2 linked regions of the Homo sapiens genome follow. The protein of the gene in region 1 purifies or fractionates together with the protein of each later gene. This does not show direct contact. Each region holds a gene or a part of one and is shown on either strand. Other genes may lie near its edges. The genes, in order: CCNG2 and PPP2R5E.

What was found.
Region 2: the proteins of CCNG2 (region 1) and PPP2R5E purify together in Homo sapiens (affinity purification with mass spectrometry, with the first as the bait; one large-scale study listed by BioGRID). This does not show direct contact.

What each region holds. Positions count from the first base shown.
Region 1 is NC_000004.12:77,159,885-77,163,706, forward strand, and holds part of CCNG2 (cyclin-G2), read left to right. Parts: intron 1-836; coding exon 837-1,087; intron 1,088-1,595; coding exon 1,596-1,674; intron 1,675-1,764; coding exon 1,765-1,863; intron 1,864-3,822. UniProt on the Homo sapiens protein: May play a role in growth regulation and in negative regulation of cell cycle progression.
Region 2 is NC_000014.9:63,396,722-63,400,543, reverse strand, and holds part of PPP2R5E (serine/threonine-protein phosphatase 2A 56 kDa regulatory subunit epsilon isoform), read left to right. Parts: intron 1-3,822. UniProt on the Homo sapiens protein: The B regulatory subunit might modulate substrate selectivity and catalytic activity, and might also direct the localization of the catalytic enzyme to a particular subcellular compartment.

The sequences.
Region 1 (3,822 bases):
ATATGACCGGCTGCCTTCCCTAGAAGTCTCTTCAAAGCAGGGAGCCATGGTTTTATTAACAGTCACCAGCAATGGCTAGAAAAATGTGGGGAATCTTCTGCCAGTAGGATTGCTGTCAGCTGCTGGGTCAGTTCTCAGGGCACTGAAAAGAAAAGGGCCGCCATCTGTCCATGGCAGCTTTTACATATGTCCCACTCTGCACAACTCGTGATATTTCTCTTGGGCAAAATTACATTGAAATATGGAATGACTCTTAAAGATTTTTATGTAAAAAGATAAGTATAAAATATTTTAATATCCCAGTACATTTTTTTTTGGTGTTAAAAAGCTTAATTTATTTTGGGAGAGATTATATTATGAATTTCATAAGTCTGAAATACAAATTATACTTTAGTGCTAGGAATCTAGCTTTTGAACCTGCATGGAAATTTTTGTACCTGCATTTGAATTTACATAATTTAAAGGTTCAAAAAACTTTTTTTTTTTTTTTTAAATAGAGATGGAGGCTTGCTGTGTTGGCCAGAATAGTCTTGCTATGTTGGCCAGAGTGTTCTCAAACTCCTGGCCTCAAGCAGTCCTCCCACCTCAGCCTCCCAAAGTCCTGGGATTACAGGCATGAGCCACTGTTCCCTGCTGCCTTTTTTTTTGGGGGGGGGGGGAGGTCGAGAACGTCTAAAATGTGAAAATGTGTATAATTGTGGGTAAAGAGCCAGTACATATAAGAGAAACAACTTGATTGTGTTCTGTCTTAAGAATAGGAGCATCATTACAATATTCTAAGTATCTGCTAAGTCAAAGTGACAGTTGTTAAAAGAAGCCTCTTGTTTTTTTCTCAGGTGAAACCTAAACATTTGTCTTGCATTGGAGTCTGTTCTTTTTTGCTGGCTGCTAGAATAGTTGAAGAAGACTGCAATATTCCATCCACTCATGATGTGATCCGGATTAGTCAGTGTAAATGTACTGCTTCTGACATAAAACGGATGGAAAAAATAATTTCAGAAAAATTGCACTATGAATTGGAAGCTACTACTGCCTTAAACTTTTTGCACTTATACCATACTATTATACTTTGTCATACTTCAGAAAGGTCAGTGGGATTAAAGATACATTTTGTACTTTGAACATTGCTATAGCTAACAGTAAATAATTGGAATGGCAATGAAATTTATATTTTTACCTTCTTCAAACTTTCAACTTTGACTTTATTGGTAAATCTTTTTTTTTTTTTTTTTTTGGAGAAGGAATTTCGCTCTTGTTGCCCAGGCTGGAGTGCAATGGCGTGATCTCGGCTCACTGCAACCTCCACTTCCCGGGTTCAAGCGATTCTCCTGCGTCAGCCTCCCAAGTAGCTGGGATTACAGGCGTGCGCCACCACACCTGGCTAATTTTATATTTTTAGTAGAGACAGGGTTTTTCCATGTTGGTCAGGCTGGTCTCGAACTCCTGACCTTAGGTGATCCACCTGCTTCTGCCTTCCAAAGTGGTGGGATTACAGGCGTGAGACACCGCGTCTGGCCCTGGCAAATATTTAAAATCATTTAAAATCATTTAAATCTTTGGAAGTTTAATAAATCTTTGTTCTTTGCATTGTATAGGAAAGAAATACTGAGCCTTGATAAACTAGAAGCTCAGCTGAAAGCTTGCAACTGCCGACTCATCTTTTCAAAAGCAAAAGTAAGTCGATTCCTTGCTTATGTATATATCTCACAGTTTGTATTTTGAATTTTTAAAAAATATTTTTCTTTTTTTTCTTTTTTCTTACAGCCATCTGTATTAGCCTTGTGCCTTCTCAATTTGGAAGTGGAAACTTTGAAATCTGTTGAATTACTGGAAATTCTCTTGCTAGTTAAAAAACATTCCAAGGTAATTACAGTCATTATTCTTTAAGGCAAATTTTTTTCCTGATGTTTATTTTTTTCTGTGGTGACTTAAACATTAAGTAATACTTTATGGGACTCTTAACTTTTACACTTGTTTTTTTTCTTATATCTCTAGTGTTAAAGTTCTCAAAATGCAGCTTTGACCCAGACAGTATTAATCCGGAAGGGAACCTGGTCACTTAGCTCAGCTTCTTTCTGCATATAGGTGCCCCTTCTGTAGTAATCATGCCATATGATAGTACAGCTGTTACATTGCCACATATGCATTGTTCTGAAATGCATACTAGGTAGTAGACTCAGAACAAACACTAATGGGATAGGATGGGATCCCATCACACCTGTAGGACTGAACTGTCATCCCATTAGCAGCAGCATCAATTAACACCAGCAATGTTGATGTTTTAAACCCGAATGTCTTTTCAAATCCTTTAGGCCAGCTAAGTAAAAGTAAGTCTTACCATCACAAAGAGATATAAAACAAAAGCACAATACTTTTTCTTAAACTCTCAGTCTAGTTGGGGAAATGAGGAACTTAACATGAAGTGGTGTGTTCTGTCATTTGTTATTGTGTCTTGGTGCCAGGTAATAGTGAATATAGAGAGTACTTTGGGATTTTTTTTTTTTTTTTTTTTTTTTTTGAGACAGTCTTGCTCTGTTGCCCAAGCTAGAGTGCAGTGGCATGATCTTGGCTCACCGCAACCTCAGCCTCTCGGGTTCAAGTGATTCTCCTGCGTCAACCTCCCGAGTAGCTGGGGCTACAGGTGCTCACCACCATGCCAGGCTAATTTTTATATTTTTGGTAGAGATGGGGTTTCGCCATGTTGGCCAGGCCGGTCTTGAACTCCTGACTTCAAGTGATCCCACCTGCCTTGGCCTCCCAAAGTGCTGGGATTACAGGCGTGAGCCACTGTGCCCGGCTTACTTTGGGTTTTTTTTAAGCAAAGAAATAGGGCAGACTAGGAGAAACACTATGACTGGGAGCCTGTTTGGAGCAAAAGAATCTTTGACAGTGAAAGTTTCAGCGAAGGCTTAACGGCCAAGAAATTGGTGGACTAGACAGATATAAAAGTCATTTTAGGGTAGACTTACAGGTACAATGTCTAGGTGGTAGTCACAAGCAGGAGTAAGGCTGTCCAACTCAAACAGTGGTTTTGGAAGCCAAGCATGGAAATGAGGCAAGGAGTCTTGAATGACCAAGATTTGTACCTAATGGTGGATATAATATTAGCATAATTGGCAGGAAATTTGGGAGAAGTTAATTTGTGATGAGAGCAATATGATTTTAGATGCTTGTGTACACAGGTGGGTGTCTAGTAGGTGTTTGGCGTTTTGGAATAAGAAGATAAACTATAGTTAGAGATTGAGGTTTGGAATTTCTCATGAAGAAGCAGTAGTTGAAACGGTAAGAAGCTGTGGAATCCTTTTTGTAGGGGTCAGTTGAAGCTCTGGGGTTTTCAGCGTTGGCCTTTCCCCCCAACATTAGGAGCCAAGTGAAGAAAGGTACATCCCCACAAGTAGAAGCACTGTCAGACTGGAAGGAGGTTTTTAAGGAGGTGGTCAGGAGTATTGAATTTTTATAAGAGATCCAATATAATGAAAATTGAAGGTCATTGGGTGTGTCAGAGGTAATGTCAGTAGAGCAGTGAGAAGGAAGTGGTAGAAACCAGATTACAAGTGGGTTAGGATGTAGCTACATTAGGTGAAAATGGGAAGCCAAGAAAATAGATCTTCTGTTTTCTGGTGAAAATATGTGCATGTGAAGCATTTTGTTTGTAACAGATAACTTTTTGCTTTAGTTATGATTTTATTAGTTTTTATCTGAACTTTTTATTGATAGTGATAGCTGGAACCATCTTCAGTGAAAATTGATTCGTTGAAATAAACTGAAGGCATTCCGAAGGAGGAGGGAAAAAAATACGTAAAAAGAAAAACAAAAAAGAAA
Region 2 (3,822 bases), on another chromosome or scaffold:
GTACGTATGTATTTATTGTATTGCTGAATGGGCAGAGAGCTGTAGTTAACAACATCTTCTGTTTGGATAGGCTGCTAGGAAAAGCATGTACTATTGAACCTGTGAGGAGCACTCATATCCCACTTCTAACTCCTCATTTCTTCATCGGTCAGCCTGGATGTCTCTTCCTTTAGAAGCCTTTGCTGATCACTCCACTTCTTCCAAATACAGTAGATGTGTCTGCTGTGTATTTATACAACATCCTGAACTACTTAACATGCTGTTTATTTACTTGTTTGTATTCCCCATTAGAATAGGCTCTGAGAAAGCAAAGACTGTATCTGTCTTGCTTATCATTGTATCCCTGACAGCTCGCCCACTGGCTGGCTTTTAATAAGCACACCATAAATATTTACTTGAAATACTCATTTTTAAAATGAACAGATGAATGAATGATAGATGGATGGTGGATGGCATTATGTAGCTAAAAATTGTGTCCTGTCTCTACCTATTTTTGAAGACCATCCTTTAGTTTGCGTTTCCTGCCATGTTTGAGGGGCCTTTTTTTGGTCCATAACTCTTGTCTTTTATTCAAATTAAAACACCGAACAAAAGCACATTCGATTATTGACCATGAGGTTTTTATTCTGCTGTCAGTGTCAACCTCATGTCTAAATCACCTGAGGTCAAACTTACATATATCTGGATAGCCTTTTTGATGACGATGGTAGTCTAATTTGTGTGTTATGTGCTCTTGAAATGTTTTGCTGTAAAGACACTAGAACTGAATTTTGCTTTATTGCAATGATGATGAATGTTAAAAAAAACAACTCAGTAACATTCAAACCAATTTCCAAGTTTGTTCTTCAGCCAGAGGAACTTGCACACTGACTTTTTGTAAAGGTAGCAGATTTATTGTGTTGTAATTCATACACCATAAAATTCACCATTTTAAAGTTTCCAATTTAGTGGTTTTTAGTATGTTTACAGAGTCATGCAACCATCACCACAGTATCATTGCAGGATGTTTTTATCATCCCTCAAAGAAATCCAGACCCACAGGAGGCTGAAGCAGGAGAATCGCTTGAACCCGGAAGGCGGAGGTTTCAGTAAGCCGAGATAGCGCCACTGCACTCCAGCCTAGTGACAGAGCAAGACTCTGTCTCAAAAAAAAAAAAAAAAAAAAAAAAAAAAAAAAGAAAGAAATCCAGACCTATTAGTAGCCACTCCCCATTCTACTTTCTGTCACTATGGATTTGCCTATTCTGCTTATTTCACATAAATGGAGTCATACATTGTATGGCCTTCTGTGTCTGGTTTCTTTTACTTACTTAGCATGATGTTTGAAAGATTCATTGATGTTGTAACATGTATCAGTTACTTTGTTCCTTTTTATGGCTGAATAATATTCCATGGCATCCCATTTTGTTTATCAGTTGACGGATATTTGGGTTGTTTCAGTTTTTAGCTATTATGAATATTGCTCCCATGAACATCTGTGTACAAGTTTTTGTGTGGACATGTGTTTTCGGTTCTGCTGGATATATACATGAAAGTGGAATCGCTTAGTCATATAGTAACTCTGTGGGAGATTTAAGGAACTGCCAAACTGTTTTCTGAAATAGCTGCACCATTTTACATTCTTACCAACAATGTATGAGGGTTCCAGTTTCTCCATATCCTCGCCAACACTTTTTATTATCCCTCTTTTTCATTATAGCCATCCAATGAGTATCTCTTTGTTGGTTGGGTTTTCTTTTCTTTTCTTTTTTTCTGAGATGGAGTCTTCCTCTGTTGCCTAGGCTGTAGTGCAGCAGCGCGATCTCGGCTCACTGCAAACTCCACCTCCCAGGTTCAAGCAATTCTTCTGCCTCAGCCTCCCGAATACCTGGGATTACAGGCATGTGCCAGCACGCCTGGCTAATTTTTGTATTTTTAGTGGAGACAGGATTTCACCATGTTGGCCAGGCTGATCTCAAACCCCTGACCTCGTGATCTACCCCCTCGGCCTCCAAAAGTGCTAGGATTACAGGCGTGAGCCAGGGTTTGCTTTTCTGTAATGATCAATAAAATAGAGCACTTTTCATGGTTTATTGACCATTCTTGTTGAAAATCAGTTGACCATAAATGTGAGGGCTTACTTTTGGGCTCTTAATTCTATTCCATTAATCTGTATGTCTGTCTTTATGCCAGTACCACACTGTCTTGGTATTTTGGACTAAGTTTTGAAATAGAGAAGTGTGAATCTTTCAAGTTTTGTTTCCCTCAAGAGTATTTTGGCTCTTCTGGTTCTCTTGCATTTCCATATGAATTTTAGGATCAACTTGTCAATGATACAAAAACAAAGCAGCTAGAACTTTTGATAGAGATTGAGTTGAATCTGTTGTGCTCACTGGCATTTGGCTGAAACTTTAGCTTGTTACCTCTTTTGGACTAGTTGCGTGGACCTCATTTTGAGCATGTAGATGTGATGTTATCAGGATTTGGTTATTAACTTTAGATTACAAATGTTTGGGAACTTAAACATGTTATTCACAGCCAGGCATGGTGGCTCACACCTCTAATCCCAGCACTTTGGGAGGCTGAGGTGGGTGGATCACCTGAGTTCTGGAGTTTGAGACTAGCCTGACCAATATGGTGAAACCCTGTCTCTGCTAAAAATACAAAAAATTAGCTGGGCACGGTGGTAGGTGCCTTTAGTCCCAGCTACTCAGGAGGCTGAGACAGGAGAATTGCTTGCTTGAACACAGGAGGCGGAGGTTGCAGTGAGCTGAGATCGTGCCACTGCACTCCAGCCTGGGCAACAGAGCAATACTCCATCTCAAAAAAAAAAAAAAAAAGTTATTCACATATAACATACAACAGAAATAATCAATGTTCACTTCGTTGACTATTTACAGAGTGAGCACACCTACATAACAAGAGTCTGGATCTAAAAAGGACCATTGCCAGTATCATTGAGACATTTTGATGTTTGTTTTGATTCAGGTTTTTTCATTTTCCTAGATGTTCTAGTAGAGCTGAAGGCTTATCCTTTTTTTTTTTTTTTTTTTTTTTTTTTTAAAGACCGAATCTTGCTCTATGGCCCAGGCTGGAGTGCAATGGCGCGATCGCAGCTCACTGTAACCTCTGCCTCCTGGGTTCAGGTGATTCTCCTGCCTCAGCCTTCTGAGTAGCTGGGATTACAGGTGCCCGCCACCACACCTGGCTAATTTTTGTATTTTTACTAGAGACGGGGTTTCACCATGTTGGCCAGGCTGGTCTTAAACTCCTGACCTCAGGTGATGCGCCTGCCTTGGCCTCCCCAGGTGCTGGGATTACAGGCATGAGTCACCACAGGCAGTCAGCTTATTTTAACTGCATATTTGGAATATCAGTAGGTAGCATAGTGCAGTGGTTGAGCTACGGACTTTTGGCCTCAACTGCTGGGGTTCAAATTCTAGCTTTACCACCTATTAGCTGTGAGACCGTGGGCACGTTACTTAACCCTATGTGCCCCAGTTTCCTCTTCTGTAAAAGGGGGACAAAACTATCTCATTGGGAGGATTAATATGTAGATTGCTTGGAAAATTGCCTGATGATCACAGTAAGTGCCATATGTGTATTAGCTATTATTCATATTATTACTTTTATTGTTGTTATTTTGTATTTGTATTTCTTTAGTGGAATATAAGCTCCTTGTCTGACTTGTTTATCATGATATGCCCAAAGACTAGCACTGTGCTTGGCACATAATAGATATTCAACACATTTTTTGAGGAAGGAAGAAGGGGATTTTAAATAATAGAATTCCTAAATCCTTTTCTGAAACCGCCTTTGACAGCTATAATGTCTTTCATTTAC